Linked DNA regions of Homo sapiens. The gene in region 1 interacts genetically with each later gene. Each region holds a gene or a part of one and is shown in the gene's direction. Other genes may lie near its edges. The genes, in order: MTF2, SEC24B, TRAPPC11 and TBL1XR1.

Region 1 (5,769 bases):
CTCGAACTTCTTCTGTTAAATTTATTCCTGAGCCAGGCACGGTGGTCCCAGCTACTCAGGAGGCTGAGGCAGGAGGATTGGGTAGGAGGATTGCTTGAGCTTAGGAGTTTGAGACTTCAGTGAACTATGAGAGCTATGATGTGCCACTGCACTCCAGCCTGGGTGACAGAGCAAGGCCCTGTCTTTAAAAATGTAAGTATTAAAAGAAATACTTTGAACATATAGAAACAAAGTAAACCATTTTCCTTGATAAGATAAAGCATCACTTTCTCCTATCCTCATTTAATTTAAAGTTCTTATCAGTACTTGAGCCCCTCTGTTGATTCTCAGTTCTGAGGATTTTTTGATAGTAGTTAAAGAATTCTCCCATAATCAGGGAGATAGAAGGGTAGTTTGTGAAGTGCTTATCTAGTACTAAAAATACTTTTAAAATTTCAAAGCATTGTCATTATAGTATAGTTATGGATCCTAATTACATTACCTTTTTTCTTTTCTTTCTTTCTTTTTTTTTTTTTGAAACGGAGTCCAGGCTGGAGTGCAGTGGCACCATCTCGGCTCAGTGCAAGCTCCGCCTCCCAGGTTCATGTCATTCTCCTGCCTCAGCCTCATGAATAGCTGGGACTACAGATGCCCACCACCATGCCCGGCTAATTTTTTTGTATTTTTTAGTAGAGACGGGGTTTCACCATGTTGGCCAGGATGGTCTCGATCTCCTGACCTCATGATGCGCCCTTCGTGGCTTCCCAAAGTGCTGGGATTACAGGCGTGAGCCACTGCACCCGGCCTTTTTTTTTTTTTTTTTTTCTTCATTAAAAGAGACAGGGTCTCTCTGTTGCCCAGGCTGGAGTGCAGTGGCGTGATCATAGCTCACTGTACCCTCAAACTCCCGGGCTCAAGTGATCCTTCCACCTCAGCCTCCTGAGTAGCTAGGACTACAAGTGCATGCCACCACACCTGGCTAATTTTTAAAATATTCTGTAGAAACGGGGTCTTGGTATGTTGCCCATGCTATTCTTGAACTCCTGGCCTCAAACAATCCTCCTGCCTTGGCCTCCTTAGGTGCTGGGATTACAGGCATGCCACTTGGGCCCAGCCAGGGCCAACTTTTAGCATCCATAGGTTCTATGGGTCACACTGCAGAACTTGAGTATCTGTGGATTTTGGTATCCTCAGGAGGTTCTGTGACCAGTGCCTTGTGGATACCAAGGGACAACTAAATAGCATATACATAAACCAGTAACACAGTCGTTTGTTATCAGTATTATGTATTGTACATAATGAGTATATGTGCAAGACTTTATGCTACTGGCAGTGCAGTAGGTTTGTTTTATACCAACATCACTGCAAACACATTGTAAAGCATTGCATTACAGTGGTTACAAAGTCACTGGGTAATATGAATTTTTCAGCTCCATTATAATCTTATGGGACCACTGCTGTATATGTAATCTGTCGTTGACCAAAGTTTTACTGTGTAGCACATGACTATGCTTAGAAGGAAGGATCAACTATGTAAATAATGAAGGAGGAGGCCGGGTGCATTGGCTCACGCCTGTAATCCTAGCACTTTGAGAGGCTGAGGCGGGCGGATCGCTTGAGGCCAGGAGTTTGAGACCAGCTGGGCCAACATAGTGAAACCCTGTCTCTACTAAAAATACAAAAAATTTAGCCAGGTGTGGTGGCACATGTCTGTAATCTCAGCTACTCAGGAGGCTGAGGTTCACTTGAACCCAGGAGGCGGGGGCTGCAGTGAGCTGAGATTGCACCACTGCACTCCATCCTGGGTGACAGAGCGAGACTGTCTCAAAAAAAAAAAAAAAAAAAAGATGAGGAAGAAGGGCAATTTTGGTAGTAGGTACAATATGTATGAATGCCTTGGGTGGAAAAGATCTTGGTTTGTGAATAATTGATAGGCAGCCCCGGGTGAATCTTGAGATGCAAAGACATATTCCTGTGGGAGAAGAAAACTAATATATCATATTTGACTTGTAGCTTTTTCAGCCTAGTAATTATGTTAGTTTCCCAGTTTTGTTGGTGTTTGAAGAACTATTTATAAAGTCCTTTTGTATTTATCTATGTGATAAATACAGAGCTTTGAAAATGTATACTACAGGCAGCTGTCTTTGAACTTTTTCTTGTTGTTTCAAAATTGGGCAGACAGCTACAGGTTGAATATCCCTTATTTGAAATGCTTGGGACCAGAAGGGTTTTAGGATTTTAGGCTTATTTGCATATACAAATGAGATGTCTTGGGGATGAGACCCAAGTTTAAACACAAAATTCATTTATGTTTCATACACACGTTGTATGCTTAGTCTAAAGCTTATTTTTTCGTTCGGGACACTGAATAAACTGTGTTGTGCCACCTGCGTTTTGACTACAACCTGTTACGAGGTCAGATGTGGAATTTTTCATGTGTGGTTGATGCTTAGAAAGTTTCAGATTTTGAAGCATTTCAGATTTTGGACTTTCAGGTTAGGGATGCTCAACTTGTATTAGTATCTGAGGACACTTAACAACCAAGTTGAACCATCTGTAGGAATGCATCATTTCATCACTGATAGATGACTTCAGTTAGACTTATAAAAAAGGCCTTAAGGCTGGGTGTGGTGGCTCACGCCTGTAATCCCAGCACTTTGGGAGGCCGAGGTGGGTGGATCACCTGAGGTCGGGAGTTCAAAACCAGCGTGACCAACACGGTAAAACCCCATCTCTACTAAAAATGCAAAAATTAGCCAGGCGTGGTGGCACGCACCTGTAATCCCAGCTACTCAGGAGGCTGAGGCAGGAGAATTGCTTGAACCCAGGAGGCAGAGGTTGCAGTGAGCGGAGATGGTACCATTGCATGGCAGCCTGGGCAACAGAGTGAGACTCTGTCTCAAAAAAAAAAAAAAGCCTTAATGGCAAAATATACTGTGGACAAGAGGCTGGATACTGTCGATACTGGCAGTGAATGGCCTGATTTCATTCACCAGTTGCTAAATCTGAAAATATTCTTGGCCTTCCCCACTGTATGTGACCTCGGTTCATAATTGGGATCCAAAGGTGACAAATATCTAGAATAACTTTGTCTCAGAAATAGTATCACTTAACTGGGGTTTACCATAGTAGAGCCAGGTATTACCTATCTTTCTTTACAACTTTAAGGAAGTAATTTTACTTCTGAGTTCCAGATTTTTCACTTGTTAAACAGTAGTCTTCCCTTCCTATTCTATGGCATTATTAGGAGGAGAAAATGAGATATGAATGCTTTTGAGAAAGTTAAGCAGTATAGCAAGATGAAGATATTTTCAAGCCCTTATCATCCATATGCTCTACTACCTACCAAAGATCCAGTTCATACTTTTGTTTATAGTAATTGGAACTTTTAAAACTCTAGGGTATAGTTAGTGGCTTGCAGCAAGAGCCCCTCAGTTCTCTTATTTTTTTCTCGTTGGTCTTAGGACCAGAGTCTGCAGGATTATAATGACAACGCTGAACTTTCCAGTTCATCCTTGCCTGAATTGTTAGTGGAGGCTCATTTTATGTAGTGTAATCAACTTTATAAATTCTGGACTTGAACATGAATGTATGTACCTGTACTTAATTCACATTTATCTGTGGTTTTAATGTATATTAGTGGCCTTGTTGGTTTTGGTGTTTTAAGTCTGTAGTTAACCTTTCTTTATTATTCATTGTATATGTGAGATAATATAATCAAGGATTCCTTTTGCACAAATAATTTAGATGGCTATGGGTATTGTGATGTAAAGATTTTACCAGTTGTCATATTGGCTTTTAAAAAAATCAGATATATTTTTGAAATCTATTACTGTTTCTAAATGTTTGGTATTTACCATTTTGAAAATACTTGATATATTATATTTAACAGTGTCATTTACAATTTTTTTTTGAGACAGAATCTCACTTTCTTGCCCAGGCGGGAATGCAGTGGTGCGATCTCGGCTCACTGCAACCTCTGCCTCCTGGGTTCAAGCAATTCTCATGCTTCAGCCACCCAAGTAGCTGGGATTACAGCTGTGTGCCAACGTGCCTGGCTAATTTTTGTGTTTTTTGGTAGAGATGGTGTTTCACCACGTTGGCCAGGCTGGTATGGAACTCCTGACCTCAAGTGATCTGCCTGCCTCAGCCTACCAGAGTGGAGTGCTGGGATTACAGGCATGAACCACCATGCCCAACCTCATTTACAATTTTTAAAAAAATCTTAAGATCTGTATTTTTTATAGTTTATAAAAGTTTTTTTGTGATCACAAAAATACATGCTTTTGGTAGAAACACAAACATACAAAGATGTTCTATAAAACTGACTTTTTATCGTACATTTTAAGATATTTAAAAATATTTTCTGTAATTTCATGAAGAGTACTAAAGCCACAGTCACTGACATTGTAAACACCTCTGTTCATTCTCTAACCTGTTAGGTGGTTAAGCTATTTTTAATTCTAGGGGGCTCAGGCTGAACTTGAGGTTGGGGAGGAGAATTTGCCTCTGCTTTTAGTTGCAATTTTCAAGTGAGGTGAAATTAAGTAAAATTTGTAAGAGCTTTTTTGGCTTTTTAATTCTAGATAAATACATAAATAAATTTGGGTCTCTGTAATAGAATATGTGCTTTTATAGGATAGTGATATTTGCTTGATAAATGGAGGATTTACTTACTAGTGTGTGTATTGATAAATACAGACTTTGATTAGTTTATTCAAGAGAGATTTTTAAGTCCCTACTTTATGCCATACCTTGAAAAGTTTTAGAGTTCCAGTGATGAGCAAAATGTTTACTTTCAATTGTAATTCAAAATGCAAATTCCACTTGTTTACATGGAGTTATTAGATTGTAAATTTCTAGAAAATTGTTTGATTCTGCCTTTAAAAAAAAAGAAAGATGGAGCCTCTCAAGAGTGCAGTGGTACAATCACAGCTCTCGTACTTCACTGTATCACGGTAGCGTTTGAACTCCTGGGCCCAGGATATCTTCACACTTCAGCCTCCCAGGTAGTTGGGACTACATGCTCTCACCGCTATGCCTGGCTTAATATTTTCATTGTTTTAGAGATTGTGTCTGTGTATGGGGATCTCGTTATGTTGCCCAGGCTGGTCTTGAACTCCCAGCCTCAAGGGATGTTCCTGTCTCAGCCTCCCCAGTATTAATAGCTTGATTTTCCTTTTTTTTTTTTTGAGACAGAGTCTCACTCTGTCACCGAGGCTGGAGTGCAGTGGCGCAATCTTTGCTCACTGCAACCTCAGCTTCCAGAGTAGCTGGGATCTCAGGTGTGCACCACCACACCTGGCTAATTTTTTTTCTTTTTTGAGATGGAGTCTCGCTCTGTCCCCCGGGCTGGAGCGCGGTAGCACGATCTCGGCTCACTGCAAGCTCCGCCTCCCGAGTTCACGTCATTCTCCTGCCTCAGCCTCCTGAGTAGCTGGGACTACAGGCACCCGCCATCACGCCCGGCTAATTTTTTGTATTTTTAGTAGAGACGGGGTTTCACCGTGTTAGACAGGATGGTCTCCATCTCCTGACCTCGTGATCCACCCGCCTCAGCCTCCCAAAGTGCTGGGATTACAGGTGTGAGCCACCATGCCTGGCCAATTTTTGTATTTTTAGTAGAGATGGGGATTTCTCCATGCTGGCCAGGCGGGTCTTGAATTCCTGACCTCAGGTGATCTGCCTGCCTTGACCTCCCAAAGTGTTGGGATTACAGGCGTGAGCCACTGCGCCTGGCCAATTTTTGTATTTTTAGTAGAGATGGGGGTTTCTCCATGCTGGCCAGGA
Region 2 (5,769 bases), on another chromosome or scaffold:
GTCAGTAGTCTCCTCTAGCCAGTAACAAATGACCCCACTCCTCAGTGATCTTAGAAGTCTCACAGGAGTGAAGATTAGTCTGTGGAAACATCATAAATATTCACCATACTGGTAAGCTGAACATCCACATAACTTGTAGCTTTCTGTTCTCTGAAATGCTCTTGACCCACCTTGCAGACTATATCTTAATACCCTGATCAGTCATCCATAGCAGTGATAATGCTTCTTGCTTCGATGCATATTCTATTTTGGCATCCTGTAGTATCCAAAGATATTTTAAAGGCATTGCTAAAACAATAAATTACATAACTGAAGTTAACATAGTTGGTAGTACTTAGTAATATGCTTCTGTGAGATGAGGCATCTATCTTATTAATAAAGAAAGCTTGACAGGCAGTGAAATGGTAATTTTTTCTTTGTATTGTAGCATCGACTTTTGAAAACAGCTCTAACAGCATTTTAAAAGATTAATGATAGATAAAATGTTTCAGTGTTCATAAATGTGGTTTTTGTGTAAAATTTTACACATTAAAATCTGATTTGCAGTATATTCAATCTTTTCTTGGAAAGTACTTATTTGTCATTCTGCCCTTAAAATGCTTAAGCAAGATATACTATTGTTCTAATATTGGAACTGGAAGTAAGTTTTCACCTTGGTCTTCTTCTCTGATATATATTTGTTTAGATAGGGATAATTTTTCTGTCCCCTGTAGAAAAGCATATGTGTAATTATCCTTGGACTTAAATTACTATTTCATTATTTTCTGAAATGAAATATGTTACTGAGCACTCTGAATTTAAAATTGTCATTTTTATCTTTAGGCTTCCTGGAGATTCACGAACAAGAATAGGATTCATGACCTTTGATAGCACTATTCATTTCTACAATTTACAAGAAGGATTATCACAGCCTCAAATGTTGATTGTGTCTGATATAGATGGTAAGCAGTCAGTAAAATAAAAGCCTTTCTAACTACGGACTTTGAAATGGGGGCTACTTTATTTTAATATACACCTTGCTATATGCTGTGAGGATAATGTCATGCACTTTAGTATTTGTTCAAAATAATTGTTTTTCTGGAAATACTTGATTCTAAGTTATGCCTATGTATTACACACATGTATGTATAATATATACAGAGTGTGTATATTTAATAAAGCAATATTAGCTGGGCGCAGTGGCTGAAGCCTGTAATACCAGCACTTTGGGAGGCTGAGGTGGGTGGATCACCTGAGGTCAGGAGTTCGAGACCAGCCTAACTAACATGGAGAAACCCCGTCTCTGCTAAAAATGCAAAATTAGCTAGGCGTTGTGGCGCATGCCTGTAATCCCAGCTACTCAGGAGGCTGAGGCAGGAGAATCGCTTGAACCCGGGAGGTGGAGGTTGCAGTGAGCCGAGATCATGCCATTGCACTCCAGCCTGGGCAACAAGAGCAAAACTCCATCTCAAAAAAATAAATAAAATAAAGCAAAATTATAGTACACATTACATGTATGACCTGATAAAAACTAAGATTTTCTAATGTATTCTTTTGTTCGATTTGTTGATTAAAATATGTGTTTTCCCTATAGATGTTTTTCTACCTACACCGGATAGTTTACTTGTGAATCTATATGAAAGTAAAGAGGTAAGATTGATTTATTTTCTTAAAGCATAAAAATATTTATATTGTGACTGGTAACTAAAATATTTAACATTTGTTTACTTGATATATTAGTATTACAAATAATAGACAATATAAATGGCATATCTATTGACTCCTCAGTTTCCAGTCCCCAGAAATACAGTGACACATGATACACTATGGAATGTTTTAAAATAAGATTATTCCTTTGCCTTCTCAGTAATTCAATTTTTGATCTTTGTTTTCTCAGCTTATAAAAGACTTACTGAATGCATTACCAAACATGTTCACCAATACAAGAGAAACACACAGTGCCCTTGGTCCTGCACTTCAGGCTGCCTTTAAATTAATGTCTCCAACAGGTGGCCGTGTGTCTGTATTTCAGACACAGTTACCTTCCTTGGGTGCAGGACTTCTGCAATCCAGAGAAGATCCTAATCAGAGATCAAGTACAAAGGTATTTTATGTTTAGTTTTTTGTCATATTCAAGATTGTGTAATTATTTGTTTATTCTATTTCATTAATAATAAAATACTGGCAAGAGAGTTGGGTTTTTTTGTTTGTTTTTTGTTTCTTTTTTGAGACGTGGTCTCACACTGTTGCCCAGGCTGGAGCGCAGTGGCGCGATCTTGTCTCACTGCAACCTCTGCTTCCCAGGTTCAAGCGATTCTCCTGCTTCAGCCTCCTGAGTAGCTGGGATTACAGGCGTGCACCACCACACCCGGCTAATTTTTGTATTTTTAGTAGAGACGGGGGTTTCACCATGTTGGTCAGGCTGGTCTCGAACTCCTGGCCTGGTGATCCGCCTGCCTCAGCCTCCCAAAGTGCTGGGATTACAGGCATGAGCTACTGCGCCCGGCTGCCTGAGAGTTTTTTGTTTTGTTTTTGTTTTTTTTTTTTGAGACGGAGTCTTGCTCTGTCGCCCAGGCTGGAGTGCAGTGGCGCGCTCTCAGCTCACTGCAAGCTCTGCCTTCGGGTTCACGCCATTCTCCTGCCTCAGCCTCCCTAGTAGCTGGGACTACAGGCGCCTGCCACCACACCTGGCTAATTTTTTTGTGTTTTTAGTAGAGACAGGGTTTCACAGTGTTAACCAGGATGGTCTCAATCTGCTGACCTCGTGATCCGCCCACTTCAGCCTCCCAAAGTGCTGGGATTACAGGCGTGAGCCACCGTGCCCGGCGAGAGTTTTTAACTCAAATTATCTTTTTGGTTTTGTGTCACAGTATGTTCTTTTTATACTTTGTAAGTCATAGAAATTTAGAAATCATTTAGTCTAACTTTTTCATTTTATAGATGAGGAAGTAGAGTGTCTAGTTAAAGGTTAAATAACTATTTAATGGTAAAAGTGCAACTTGATTTTCTGACTCCAGTGTTCTTTTCTATTACGTAAGTGGTAAAACTTACTAAATGTAACTATTGTAATTCAACATGCTCATACTAATAAACTTTTTAATTATGAAGATAACACAGATCATTGTATAACACTTGGAAAGTGGAGAAAAGCATAAATCACCAATAATCTAACGATACTAGCATTTAGTTATACAAACATACAAATAAGCATAATTGGACATCATACGTGTGTGTGTGTATATATATGTGTGTGTGTTTGACCTTTTTCATTGGAGAATATATTGTGCGCATTCTCTGAAGTCACAGAGAAAGTAAATGTGAAAGTAATCAATTGATTGCTTTTCAGCTATTAAATAGTTGTCTTCAGTATTTTTTTCTTTTGTTTTTTAAAAGTAGAGACAACATCTTGCTGTGTTGCCCAGGCTGGCCTCAAACTGCCGAGATCAAGCAATACCCCTACCTCAGCCCTGCAAAGTGCTGGGATTGCAGATGTGAGCCAGACCTGTATTTGCACTATTTTTTTTTTAAAAAAGGGCTGGGTGTGGTAGCACCTGCCTGTTACCTTAGCTACTCAAGAGGCTGAGGCTAGAGGATCATTTGAGCTTAGGAGTTCTAAACCAGCTTGGGCAATGTAACGAGACCCTATCTTAAAAAATAACAATAATGGCCGGGTGCAGTGGCTCACACCTATAATCCCGGCACTTTGGGAGGCAAAGGTGGGTGGATCACTTGAGTTCAGGAGTTTGAGACCAGTCTGGCCAACATTGCAAAACCCCATCTCTCCTAAAAATACAAAAATTAGCTGGGTGCGGTGATGCAAGCCTGTAATCCCAGCTACTCAGATGGCTGAGGCAGGAGAATCACTTGAACCAGGGAGGCAGAGTTTGCAGCGAGCTGTGATCACTGCCACTGCACTCCAGCCTGGGCAACAGAGCGAGACCCGGTCTCAAAAAAAAAGAAAAACAATAATAATAATAACAATGAAAGGAATATACGAAGCTGAACATTACTTGGGTTTTATGTGAAGATTTGGTCAGGCATTTTTAAGCCCTATTTCAAATAATAAATGAACAAAAATATTCATTTTTCTTTTGTACAAGTTCTGTCTGGCCTTAACATATTTGAGAAAATATCATTATAAGTAGTTATGAGTATGAATTAAACAGTTTTAATAGTGTCATAAATCTTTAGCCACATATCCAGATTTGCCTTAGGATAAATTCCTAGAAGTGAAATTATTGGGTTAAAGGGCATAATCTTTAAGTTATTAAATAAAGAATGTTTTGTTTATTTGGGTTTTTTAATCAACTTCTCTTCTTAAGGACTCTCATCCTGTAACCACCATTAAGTAGCATTGCTTTTTTTATTCTTCACCAATATGCTAGAGAAAAAAAGGCACCATATTTCACCCTTTATAGAAATTGTATTTTAAAATTGCATTTGAGAAGGAAGCTAATTTTAAAATAAGTATGTATTTTAAACTCATCAACAAGTGTAGCTGGCATTTAGTTCGTTGACCCATTACAATCCATTATAAATTACTGTGGTGTTTTGAACACAGGAAGCTGATATATATTTACTGAATCCTTTGATAGAGCTTTGTTTTGATTTGTTTTGTTTTCTCATTTAACTTTCAAAAATATTCTCTATCTGTCTGCCTAGGACTCTAAAGTTTCAGTATCTGTTCTGGTTTACATATTCCTTCATATCCTTAATTCCTTATATTAGAGTAAGCTCTAATATAATCATCATACAGTGTAATTAAGAGGATTGAAACTTTTTTTTAGGAAATGTTGTATGATGATTAAGAACTTGGAGACTCTCTCCAGTGTCACCTTCTCAGCTCAAGTCTTCTCATACCAAAAGAAACACCTTCCTTAATCTTTTACTCTCTTAAGTTATTTAACAATATTTAATAATGGTTAACAGCACTCATTCTGCAGCCAGATTTCTTGGGTTGATATTCCAATATCCACTTCTCAATATCTATGTAATCTTGGTCAAGTTACTTAATCAGTTATTGCCTCAGTTTCTTCGTCTGAAAATGTAGATGATAAAAACCATATGAGATGTGTTATGAAAATTAATTTGTGTGAAACAGTGCTGGCACATAAGTGTTTTTTATAAAGATTATCTATCATTATTATTATCATAGGGAATCTGCACCAAATGCCTAGACATTTAGAAAACTCTTAGTTTGGTAGGGAGGCAGAGGATATCCTTTTTGTTATAAAAATGACATGAAAATATGAGCATAAAGATTGCTAGCTCTTACTATATGATCTGTTGACTTAGGTGGTACAACATCTTGGCCCTGCAACTGATTTTTATAAGAAACTTGCATTAGATTGCTCGGGACAGCAAACTGCAGTGGATTTGTTCCTTTTAAGTTCACAGTATTCTGATCTTGCTTCTCTAGGTAAGGAAAGTCATCATGGGTACATTTGTTTAAATGAACATTTTTAATGCATAATTAAATCTAAACTCTTCAGTAAGCATTCTCTATATTTTAGGGAGAAAAGCATGTGCATTAGATAGACAATATCTATGAAAACTACCAGTAAAGTTTAAAGCACTATACAAATATAAAATGTCACTTGTATTTTGTTTAGATAGCATGATTCCCTTACCATTCTGCTCAACAGTAAACTTTATCATATATTTTATAGATATTACTGTTTTCTCAGATTTGTATGTTCTTATTTTGATGGCTTAGGTTTTCTCATGACTTAGATTTCTTCATAATGTAGAATCTGTACTACTGTTGGACAAGTAAAATATTATTATTTC
Region 3 (5,769 bases), on another chromosome or scaffold:
GCACATGCCACCATGCCCAGCTAATTTTTGTATTTTTTTATAGAGATGGAGTGTTGCTCAGGCTGGTCTTGAACTGCTGGGCTCAAGGAGCCCACCCACCTCAGCCTCCCAAAGTGCTGGGATTACAGGTGTGAGCCATCATGCCTGGCCCAGTTTGAGAATTTTAAAGCAAGAGCATGCAATTTATTCTTAAAGTTTTAAGAAACTTTATTCTAGTAGCAAAATAGAAATAATATCATGGAAGCCAATTAGAGGCTCTTTATATTAATCCATGTACAAAAGTACAAGTATCGGAATTGAGTTGCTGGTGTTGGGAATGGAGATTCAGGGATATAAGAGGCATTTAAAAATAGATAAATCTGGATTGCCAAGTGCATATAGCGGCTGAAAAGTGGGGATAGGATGAATGAAGGACAGGAGGTTTTGTACATGCCCTTTCCTCTGCTTGAATTGGTTTGCCCTCCTCTCCGACTACTTCATTCCTTCTTGCCTTTTCTCACTTAAAAGCATCACTTCTTCAGGGAAGCCTCCCCTGACTTACATGACTGAATCACTTAGCCAGGCTCTCATAGCCTTGGTAGTACTAATCACACTGTGGTTTCACCGTTGTCTGTGTGATTATTTGGTAAATTACCTGTTTTTCCTTACTGGAATCTAAGCTCCACAAGGGCAGAAGGGCAGGGGTTTTTTTTGTTTGTTTGTTTTGTTCATTATGAAATTAGAGGGTCAACACAAGGACTCTTTTTTTTTTTTTTTTAAAGAGATACTTTGTTGCCCAGGCTGGAGTGCAGTGATGTGATCATAACTCATCTCAGCCTCAAACTCCTGGGCTCAAGTGAAGTATGGGGACTCTTATTTTACTTTTCCCTTAATAGCCTACTATTTCATTTCTTTTCTTTCCTTTTTTTTTTCAACAAAAAATATAAGCTACTATAATTAAAAACTAATAACGCTAAAATGGAATATAAAGCAATTAGTTTTAAAATTTAGATTATATTCTGAATATATCTTATTTGAAATTTAAGATACAGGCGGGGCGCAGTGGCTCACGCCTGTAATCCCAGCACTTTGGGAGGCCAAGGTGGGCGGATCACTGGAGGTCAGGAGTTCAAGACCAGCCTGGCCAACATGGTGAAACCCCATCTCTACTAAAAACCCAAAAATTAGCTGAGCGTGGTGGCGGGTGCCTGTAGTCTCAGCTACTTGGGAGGCTGAGGCATGAGAATTGCTTGAACCTGAGAGGCGGAGGTTGTAGTGAGCTGAAATTGCATTTCTAGTGGGCGATGGAGTGAGACTCCGTCTTAAAAGAAAAGAAATTCACAATATAAACCATAAGAAAAAAAAAAGTAGAGTAGTTTTTATAAGCATGGAATAGAAATGAAAATTGGCGGGAAAGTATAATACTTGAACTGTGTAAGAATTTCTATGAAGGTAATTTATATGCTGGAATAGAAGATGGCTCTTGGAAAGGTCTTGATATTTATTGAACAGATGAGAATAGTGATTCCATAGATAGAAACATGAAAGCTGTCTTCCTTTACTCATCTATGAGGATTGTTCTCTTCTGGGAAGGCAGATGCACATTCACTTTGGGACGTGCTGAGTTTCAGTGGTAGTGGACTTGTCCTCTAGACAGTTGTGGATATAAGCTTGTAATTAAGGAAATAAGACAGAATAGGACAACTGTATGTGAGAGATACTAGCAACAATGGTATGGTGAACGTGGAAACAAATACATTTCCAATGAAGTGAACAGAGAGAGAAATGAAGACCTGAAAGAAAGCAAAGGAATGGGGCTGGGCTTGGTGGCTCACACCTGTAATCCCAACACTTTTGAAGGCTGAGGCAGGAGGATCACTTGAGCCCAGGAAGTTTGAAACCAGCTTGGGCAACGTAGTGAGACCCCATCTCTACAAAAAATAGAAAAATTAGTCTAGTGTGATCGTACATGCCTATGGTCCCAGCTACTTTGGAGGCTGAGGTGGGACTATCCCTTGGGTCCAAAAGGTTGAGGCTACAGTGAGCCGAGATCATGCCACTGCACTCCAGGTAGGAAAAACAGGAAGTAACCAAGCAGGATGAGAAACAGGAAAGATTATAGCATCACAGAAGCCAAGTAAAAAAAGGCTCTTCAAGAAAAGGAGGTGATAAACAGTAGTGTCCAGTGCAACAAAGAACAAACTGTTTCTCTGGGAGAGGGATAGCTAAATATTTTCAGAAAACAGTTTATGTGTAGTGAACTGTTATATTATGGCAGCAGTAAGTGGATAAATGCCTCTATTTGGCATAAAAAATACTTCCTTTTATTAGTAACCCTTCATAATGCTTCAGTGTTTGTGGAGTTATACTAAATGAGCTCCAAAGCACTTGGCATTTAGGGTTAGCAGACATCTGACATTTGATGACCCCTGTTCACCTTTTTCAGGAATACAACCAGTTCTGTGTAATAGAAGAAGCATCCAAAGCAAATGAAGTTTTAGAAAATCTGACTCAAGGAAAGATGTGCCTAGTTCCTGGCAAAACAAGAAAACTGTTATTTAAGTTTGTTGCAAAAACTGAAGATGTGGGAAAGAAAATTGAGGTTAGTTATGAAATTTGTTTTAAAATATTTTTAATAATAAAAGTATGTTTATATCAATATTTTAAATAATACAAAAGTTGATTAAGTAAAAAATGAAAATCTGCTACTTGGACTTCCTAAAGGAAACCATTCATAATAGTTTGGGAAGTTTCCTTCAGACATTTTTCTGTGAACATACTTGTAGTTTAAAATTTTTTGCAATTAAAAAATTGAGAATATACTGTACATAATAAACTGTAGCTGGCTTTTGTCATTTAATAGTGTATATTAGATATTATTTCTTGTTAGTATATAAACCAATCTTGTTTTTTAATGACCACATAATCAGTTAAGGAGTTTTAAATAATGTATATTATGTAATATAGCAAATATATTTTTTATGTTATTCAGACTGAATATCTTTTGATGTTTAAGCATTACTGAGTACATATTTTTAAAGAAAAATGAACATATATATTTGTAAAGATTGATATAGTATAGATAATTGAAATGCCTTTTAGAAATATAGGATCTAAGTAATATCTTTATTGAGCATAAACTCTGGAGCCAAACTGTATGGGTTTAAATTACAGCTCTCTAGCTTATTAGCTTGTGGCCCTGGGCAGTTACTTAGCTTCTTTGTGTCTCAGTGTATTCATCTGTAAAATGGGGATCATAAGAGTACTAATCTCTTAGGATTTCATGAGGATTAAATCAGCTAGTTAATGTAACTTGCTTGGAATAGTGATTAGCACACAGTAAGCATTCATTAAGTGCTTGTTTTTCATGACTTGAATGGGAATGGTTAGCTCATCTAAACTTGGGACCATTGCTAAGATAAATGGCATATAAAGTTATACAACCAGTGTTCCCATAACAGTTTCTGTGAACATGTTGCTTTTATTATTTGCTTATTCATTAAAAAAAAAAAAACTTTCATGATTTTGACTAAATGCCCTAATTGCATATTTTATTTTTTCATGGTACCTAAGGGAACCTACCAGACATAAATAATAATTAGTAATTCTATTTTGAGTCCTTTTGTTAATGGTTTTAGTTGAATAGATCATGTATTCAATTAATAAAGCATTTTATTGCTAATACTGTAAATATTTTTGAGAAAAATATTTGTGGAGTCGGAAATGAGGTTATAATGTATCCATAGCCATCACAATACTTATTTCATTCAGCAACCACTAATTGAACCTTCATTACATCAGGGACTATGCCAGATGTTAAAATCATAACACTACTGTGCAATCAGCCTGTCAACAGAAAGTCAGGTTAGTGTCTCTGTTTTAAAGGTGAAGAAGTTGGAACCCAGAGCGCAGTTAGTCTCTGTCCCAGCCCGAGTAAGACCTCTAATAGCAGGTGTTCTCACTTCTGTCACACTGGGGGTCTCTAGATGAACTCCATGGTCTTAGCAGTCGACGATGTAATTTTGGTGAGAGGAGATGGTGACAAGCACATATGAGATGACATTTCCAACATCCTTTTTTTTCTTTTTAGATTACTTCAGTGGATCTTGCTCTGGGCAATGAGACGGGAAGATGTGTGGTTTTAAATTGGCAGGGAGGAGGAGGAGATGCTGCTTCCTCCCAAGAAGCCTTACAGGCAGCTCGGTCTTTCAAAAGGCGACCTAAGCTACCTGACAATGAAGTTCACTGGGACAGCATTATAATTCAGGCAAGCACAATGTAAGTCTGCTTTGCTAAGCTGATATTAAAGGTCATCCTCTTATTTCTTTTGCTATTTTTTTTGGAGACAGAGTCTCTCTCTTGTCCAGGCTGGAGTGCAGTGGTGTGATCACGACTCACTGTAGCCTTGACCACCTGAGCTCAAACCATCCTCCCACCTCAGGCGCTACCCTTGCCTTCCCCAGTAGTTGGGACTACAGCCAGGTGCCACCATGCCTGACTAATTTTTGTATTTTTTCTAGAGATGAGGGTCTTACTATGCTGCCCAGCCTTGTTTCAAACTCCTGGGCTCAAGCGATCCTCCTGCCTCAGTCTCCCAAAATGCTGGGATTACAGGCCTGAGCCTCTGCACCCAGCCTCTTATTTCTTTTAAATACTTTATTTGAATAATTTATTTGCTTTTTTTTTGATCAGTTACTTAGCTAAGGTTTCTTTTCAAAGGATCATATCCAGAGTCCCAAACATTTCTGTACATCTGCTACATGAACCCCCTGCACTGACTAATGAAATGTATTGTTTGGTTGTGACTGTTCAGTCCCATGAAAAGACCCAAATCAGAGATGTGAAGCTCACCGCTGGCTTAAAACCAGGTAAGCATTCCTTTTTGTAAGTTTGATCAGTATTAATCCAACATTAAATAAGCATCAGTGATGTCAACTCTAGGACTTTTGTTTACAAGAGGGTATGGCATAGTGCTCTTCACACAGTATTGATTATTGGGATAATGTTTGAATTCTTTGTTTTGAAGAACCAATATTAACTCTTTTAGGACAGGATGCCAATTTAACTCAGAAGACTCACGTGACTCTTCATGGAACAGAACTGTGTGATGAATCCTACCCGGCTTTACTCACTGACATTCCTGTTGGAGACTTACATCCAGGGGAACAGGTAAACTTGGTCAACTGGGATTGAAGAGGAAATCAATTAGTTTGTAGTTTTAAATATATAGTGAGTTTTTAACAGTTCAGAGCGTTTTAACGCATATTCTAGGACTGAAAAAGTGATTTAACTAATGAACATTTCATACACATTTTACATACGTAAATGTGTAAAATGTCTTAAGCAGTTTTTCTACAAGGGAATTTAGAAAACATGCTTAACATGAATTAGTGGGCTAATAAAATACCCATTGTTTGTAACTTAGTGCAGTTAACTTCTCAGTCAACTTCTGCTTCCAAACTAGATAGAAAAATATTTTGGAAGTTAAAGAACAATAATTTCTAAAAGATGCAGTAGTAATGATCCCACCCTTATACTGTGGCCACAGTGTAATCAGAGTACTCTACTACAGTGGGAGCATTGATGAGTTACATTGTAACATTCTGTAAAAGTGATAAAGAATTTAGCCAGTTGGTATAAATAAACTCTAGAAGGTGGGAACATTATCCTAGAATATATATCAAGAAGAAATGTCTGTAATACTAATTAAATTACAACATTTATTTTGTTACAGCTGGAAAAAATGTTGTATGTTCGCTGTGGAACAGTGGGTTCCAGAATGTTTCTTGT
Region 4 (5,769 bases), on another chromosome or scaffold:
AGTTAGGATGACTATGACTTTCAGGTGTAGTGAAATGAGATCAGAAGTTTCTAAGGAAAAGTAGTTTTAGGGAGGGGAAGAAGAAAATTGATTTTGAACATAGTAATTTTAAACTGCTATGTAATGCCATGGCTAGAAATAAAGAAAATATTCTAGTTGAATTCAACATTTAAGCAGAGCATTTAAGTTTGGAACTTCTCTAGGGTAAACATTAGTGAGAAGTGCCAAAACAATGCTAATGACTACTTCAGGGATGTTTCATTGCTATTTGAGAGCATCCTAAGTACATCTGCAGTACCTTGAGATGCATGTAAGCACCTGTGATAGTTTTTCTCCTGGTCTGACAGAACAAATTCAGGATATCTGCAACATTCCAGCCAGAAATTGGCACAGTTCCACCTGCAAGTCTTAGACTATTCTTGGACATATTATTACTTTAAACTTAAACTCTATAAGCTAATTAAATAGGGTCCAAATTTAACAATTTTGACTATTTAAATTGCAGTCATGAATAAAGTATACAGAAATCATGTACTTCAAACAAATTTATAAGCATTACATAAGTCAAGACACTTTCAAAACCTTGGCAGTAAATATGGCAATAAGATGGCTCAGTGTTTCATGCACTGTGCAACCACTTTCCAGGACCCTGAGATGAAAACAAAACAGTGATGTAGTCTTTTACTTTCTATCAGGAAACAGGAGCTCACTCTCTCCCTTAGCTTTATCCTTGACCATATTTTAACTGTTCAAGAGGAGTAGTAGAGTCTCTGAATGAATTTGAATCTGTACTTTCTCATTTATTAGTTGTGATTTTCCATTAGATTATAAAATAATAAAATTATATGTGTGTACACAGTATCTAGCATATGGTATAGGCCCTCTGTAAATGATGTCTTCTGTCTTGAAGTTTTCTTAAATCTCTTAAGCTGCTTGGCGTTTGGCTGTTTTTACTATGGATGATTTACTGTGAATTTATTCAGGGAGGGGTTATATAATTGAAAACAGGAATCTCCAACCTCACTGCTTAAGGATTTTACTGCTATGTCTCTCATTGTTTCTCCCCATCCTCCCTCATCCTTATTCTGTTTTCTGCCTTGGTGATCTGGAATCTACTCATATTCAGATAGTTGTGGGCTTCCTGATAGGGACAATTCAAAACGGTGCTTCTCCGCCCCCACCCCCCCACCCCCGCCCCGCCCCCCGATTGGTATCTCTGTGAGCCCAGATTAAGGTGAAAACTATGAAAACTATAAATGCATTTAATTATGATCTTGCTTATGGGCAAAATCAGGGGCTAAAATCAAGGTTTTAGAGGTAACATTTTTCCACTTGCCTTTTCCACTGTGGGTTAGATGTTGTGAGCATAATGAGTTAGGTGTTCCAAAGAGAGAAGGAAGGGGTTACAAGGAAAATCAACTTAGGTGTACTCTGACTATCAAATAACCAAATTTTCCTAGCCACATGCTAGGAAATTGTGAGCCCACAGTATTTTCTACTAGACTGTTTATAAGTACCACAAGGAGTATAAGAGTGGAAGCACAAAATCCAAAAAAGACATTACTAAACACTAAAAAACTAGGCTAGACAGGCTAGCCAACAGACATACTATATAGATTAAATCAGTTTAACCAAGACCCAAAATAAGCCTGTATTTATTTCCTTTGTTTAGTATAAATGTTTATTAATATTCTATATTACTTGTACAATTTAATTGAATTGTTTAAAATACTTCATAGAAATTACTACTTAATGATAAATGGTGATTAATATTTCAGTAAAGAAAATAACCACCCTTGGTTTATCAGCTTCTTAGAATTTTACCTTTGAATTTTGACTAGATATTAATAAAAAGCAAGGCCAACATAAAGAGATTTTTATTAAGTAAGTGCTTTGGTTTTAAGTATTTCAAGTTAAGAGTAAGTAATTGCTGATGGAGACCTATAAACCAGGTAATCATTTGCTAGCTGTTCATTTCTTAAATATTTCATATAGATGAGTTATTACTAAGTGGCAAAGAATTGGTATTTTTAAAGCACTTAATTCATACATAAAATGAGATTTAACCGTTATGATTTTTTAATATTTGAATTTATTTTTATTATTTTAGTTTTCCTAAGTAGTTCCAAAGAGCTCCAAAATACTGAATTTATCAGATGTTTGACAATTTATATGTAGAAATTTAAATACTTCAGATTTTACCTGAGTGCTAGATTGCTTTACAGACATTATTGAATTATAACTACGTAGTAGATAACAATTACATGAAGTAAATGAAGATCATTCAGAATGAATGAATTCCTATTTAAAGCATATTATGTGTACCACTTTTGAGAGATGCTGAATACTTGAACTGGGCTGGGATGAAAGAAAATTTGAAATAAAGTTCCTTAATTCTAGATGTAAAAAATATTAAAATATAATACAGAAATATTAAATGTCCCTTAATCTGTCTTGGCCTGATTTAAATGAAGCAATTTAATTATATGATTTCCAAAGACTTGTTTTACCTTTTACATTTGATGCTTTTTGTTAAGAAAAGTTGTGTACCATGACATTTTAGAAAATTTGAAGCTATATAATCAAGTATTTACTAGAAATTTTAAAGAGTACATTAAGAGAAAAAGAAAGTATGTAAAGGCTGACATGTTTACATGCACACACACGCGCGCGCACACACACACACACACACACACACACACGACCTTCGTCTGGGATTTTAAATGGGTAGGATGGGATTTGAAAAGATGATGGTGATCTTTCTTTCTGTGTCATTTAGCATGTTGCCACTAGGAAAATAAATTCTCATGCCTTTTCTTTTGTTTTTAGGATTTTCTCATTCAGCATTTACCTTTGGTATAGAAAGCCATATCAGTCAGTCCAATATAAATGGTGCCCTCGTCCCACCCGCTGCATTGATTTCTATCATCCAGAAAGGTCTACAGTATGTAGAAGCAGAAGTTAGTATTAATGAGGTAAGGAAGACTTATTTCAAATACTGATTTTTTTCATCTTAAATATGCCGTTAAGTCAGCTGTCTTGCTTGCTTATTCAGTATTCTGACTTTAGCTTCACAGGGTTAACAAAAGTGCAGGCAGTTCATCCCTAATGTGGTAGTCAGGTTGCACCGGCAAGGTGTTGGCGCCTAGTTGTAAGGACCATTATCTGTAGTTTGTTTGCCTTAATCTGTTTGTGTAAGTAAACACTAATAAAGAATTTTTATTAACACAACAGCATTGTGCTGTGGAATGCTAAGATCATAATTATTGGCCTGAAAATTGTAAATTCTCACGTTATTTGAATATACCCAAATTTAAACCAGTTTGTAATTGAAGCCAACTCTGGATGGTACTGCCTATCTAAGGACTACATGTGAGTAGTTTGTTTGGCTTAGGGGTCAGCATACTGTGGCCCATTAGCCAAATGCTCCTCCCTGTTTTTCTCAATAAAGTTTGATTGGAACATAGCCACATGCATTTACATATTGTCCATGGCTACTTATGGCATAATAGTAGTTGAGACAGAGACCTTATGGCCTGCAGAGCCTAAATTAATATTTACTGTCTACTCTTTTACAGAAAAAGGTTGTAAACCCCGGTCTAGTTTAAAATGTTGTTTTTGTTTTTTGTTTTGTTTTGTTTTGTGTGTGACGGAATCTCGCTCTGTTGCCCAGGCTGGAGTGTGGTGGCACAATCTCAGCTCACTGCAACCTCCGCCTCCTGGGTTCAAGCGATTGTCCTGCCTCTGCCTCCTTAGCAGCTGGGATTATAGGCACCCACCACCATGCCCAGCTAATTTTTGAATTTTTGTAGAGACAGGGTTTCCCCATGTTGGCCAGGCTGGTCTTGACTCCTGACCTCAGGTAATCTGCCCACCTCGGCCTCCCAAAGTGCTGGAATTACAGGCATGAGCCACCACGCCCAGCCTAGTTTAAAATTTTTATCTATAGTGAGGAGCTTTTCCCATTACTTCTATTTCAGAGATTAACATGTTCCCCTTTTGCGAGTATTTTTAAACTGAAGTATCTATGATTTCTGTATCAATGATTATTACTAGAATTAGAAATTACATAATATACTAAAATGGATTTGTTTGTTTCCTCAGCTCTTTGAGTGACCATCCAGTAACGCAAAACTAAATTTTTTCTTAAAATGTGTGTAAATTTGACATGGCGCTTATTCCACAGTGTATCTGTGTTGGGTTTAGTATCTTAAAAATTATTTATAAGTTAAAATACTTTCTCCTGTTCCTGAAATATTACATTACAATGGACAGTTTAGAAAGACAGGCTGTGTTTTTGCAGCTCACAGTACCCTGCAATAACACTGTAGATTGTCACTGGTACATGTTTACCAGTTTAAGTGAACCAGACTTCACATATGCATGTTCCCAGCTAATTTGTACTGTTTGTATTTCTGACTTGTTCTGTGTTTGTGTCTCTTCTTGTGCTTACTTGGAGAACTCTTTATTAGGAACTTCCTAATATCAATAAGTAGAGCTTTGGAAATTTTAATAACTCCCTAATATTCAAGAGCACTATAGCCCCATGAAGTCTGTTTCTGCTTTAATATTTGAATCAAATCACAAGAAACTCTTCAGCTCAAAGTTTTTAGTTTTTTAAAAGATGTATTTACTATAATGGGGCACCAGGCCTCTGATCATTATATGAACTATATTCCATATTGTTTGTTGCTTTGACTAACAGAATTTCAGAATCTAATTAATAAGCCTTTTTATCAGCTCGGCCTACATCTTATTATCTCTTTCATTTCAGCTCTATCTGTACAGCTCTATACTGTAATAATAGTATGAATTAAATGAAAAGGAAAATGTAAGCAGTCATTTCCAGTTGCTGCTTGTAGTTTCTTTATTCCCTCCGGACTTCTTATATGAATTCAGAAAGTTCCTAAAAATGTTTTTTTAGGAACGAAGATTTTCATTTCATTTCTGATTTTGTATAAATACAAATAACTTTAAATATTGCCTTTGATTTTTCTTCTCTCACAATTTTCCAAATCCAGGATGGTACCTTGTTTGATGGTCGACCAATAGAGTCTCTGTCCCTGATAGATGCCGTAATGCCTGATGTAGTACAAACAAGACAACAAGCTTATAGAGATAAGCTTGCACAGCAACAGGCAGCAGCTGCTGCAGCTGCCGCAGCTGCAGCCAGCCAACAAGGATCTGCAAAAAATGGAGAAAACACAGCAAATGGGGAGGAGAATGGAGCACATACTATAGCAAGTGAGCTCAGACAAGAATTTTTTTTTAATTACATGGTTTATTTATTTATTTTTTTAAACTTTTAATTCGGGGTACATGTGCAGGTTTGTTATATAGATGAACTCATATCACAGGGGTTTGTTGTACAGACTATTTCATCACCCAGGTACTAAGCCTAGTGCCCAATAGTTATTTTTTCTGATCCTCCTCTTCCTCCCACCCTCCACCCCCCAGGAAGGTCCCAGGAGACAAGAATTTTTAAAAATTTTTTCTCAGAAGAAATGCCCCATCTTCTATGCTGAAATAATTTCATCTGTTAACTTGCACCAACTTGTTTCCCTAACTTGTATCACACAGTTCAATTCAGATTTTTATTCCTAAAGCTCCAAAAAGCTAGATTTACTTTTATTTTCTTTTTAAAATATCTAGAAACCCTTTTCCCATTGTTAAATGAATTTTTACATCTACATTTGATTTCTAAATAAAATTTGTAATACTAGTTATCAACAAATAACCATAGAGCTCTGACATCGAGATAAAAGGCAA

The links.
Region 2: changes in MTF2 (region 1) and SEC24B together harm fitness more than expected from each alone (negative genetic interaction), as found in Homo sapiens cells (one large-scale study listed by BioGRID).
Region 3: changes in MTF2 (region 1) and TRAPPC11 together harm fitness more than expected from each alone (negative genetic interaction), as found in Homo sapiens cells (one large-scale study listed by BioGRID).
Region 4: changes in MTF2 (region 1) and TBL1XR1 together harm fitness less than expected from each alone (positive genetic interaction), as found in Homo sapiens cells (one large-scale study listed by BioGRID).

Annotation. Positions count from the first base shown.
Region 1 is NC_000001.11:93,084,692-93,090,460, forward strand, and holds part of MTF2 (metal-response element-binding transcription factor 2), read left to right. Parts: intron 1-5,769. UniProt on the Homo sapiens protein: Polycomb group (PcG) protein that specifically binds histone H3 trimethylated at 'Lys-36' (H3K36me3) and recruits the PRC2 complex, thus enhancing PRC2 H3K27me3 methylation activity.
Region 2 is NC_000004.12:109,519,544-109,525,312, forward strand, and holds part of SEC24B (protein transport protein Sec24B), read left to right. Parts: intron 1-822; coding exon 823-941; intron 942-1,573; coding exon 1,574-1,629; intron 1,630-1,876; coding exon 1,877-2,083; intron 2,084-5,274; coding exon 5,275-5,398; intron 5,399-5,769. UniProt on the Homo sapiens protein: Component of the coat protein complex II (COPII) which promotes the formation of transport vesicles from the endoplasmic reticulum (ER).
Region 3 is NC_000004.12:183,688,891-183,694,659, forward strand, and holds part of TRAPPC11 (trafficking protein particle complex subunit 11), read left to right. Parts: intron 1-2,425; coding exon 2,426-2,581; intron 2,582-4,069; coding exon 4,070-4,257; intron 4,258-4,698; coding exon 4,699-4,847; intron 4,848-5,026; coding exon 5,027-5,148; intron 5,149-5,713; coding exon 5,714-5,769. UniProt on the Homo sapiens protein: Involved in endoplasmic reticulum to Golgi apparatus trafficking at a very early stage.
Region 4 is NC_000003.12:177,050,979-177,056,747, reverse strand, and holds part of TBL1XR1 (F-box-like/WD repeat-containing protein TBL1XR1), read left to right. Parts: intron 1-2,829; coding exon 2,830-2,975; intron 2,976-5,021; coding exon 5,022-5,244; intron 5,245-5,769. UniProt on the Homo sapiens protein: F-box-like protein involved in the recruitment of the ubiquitin/19S proteasome complex to nuclear receptor-regulated transcription units. Plays an essential role in transcription activation mediated by nuclear receptors.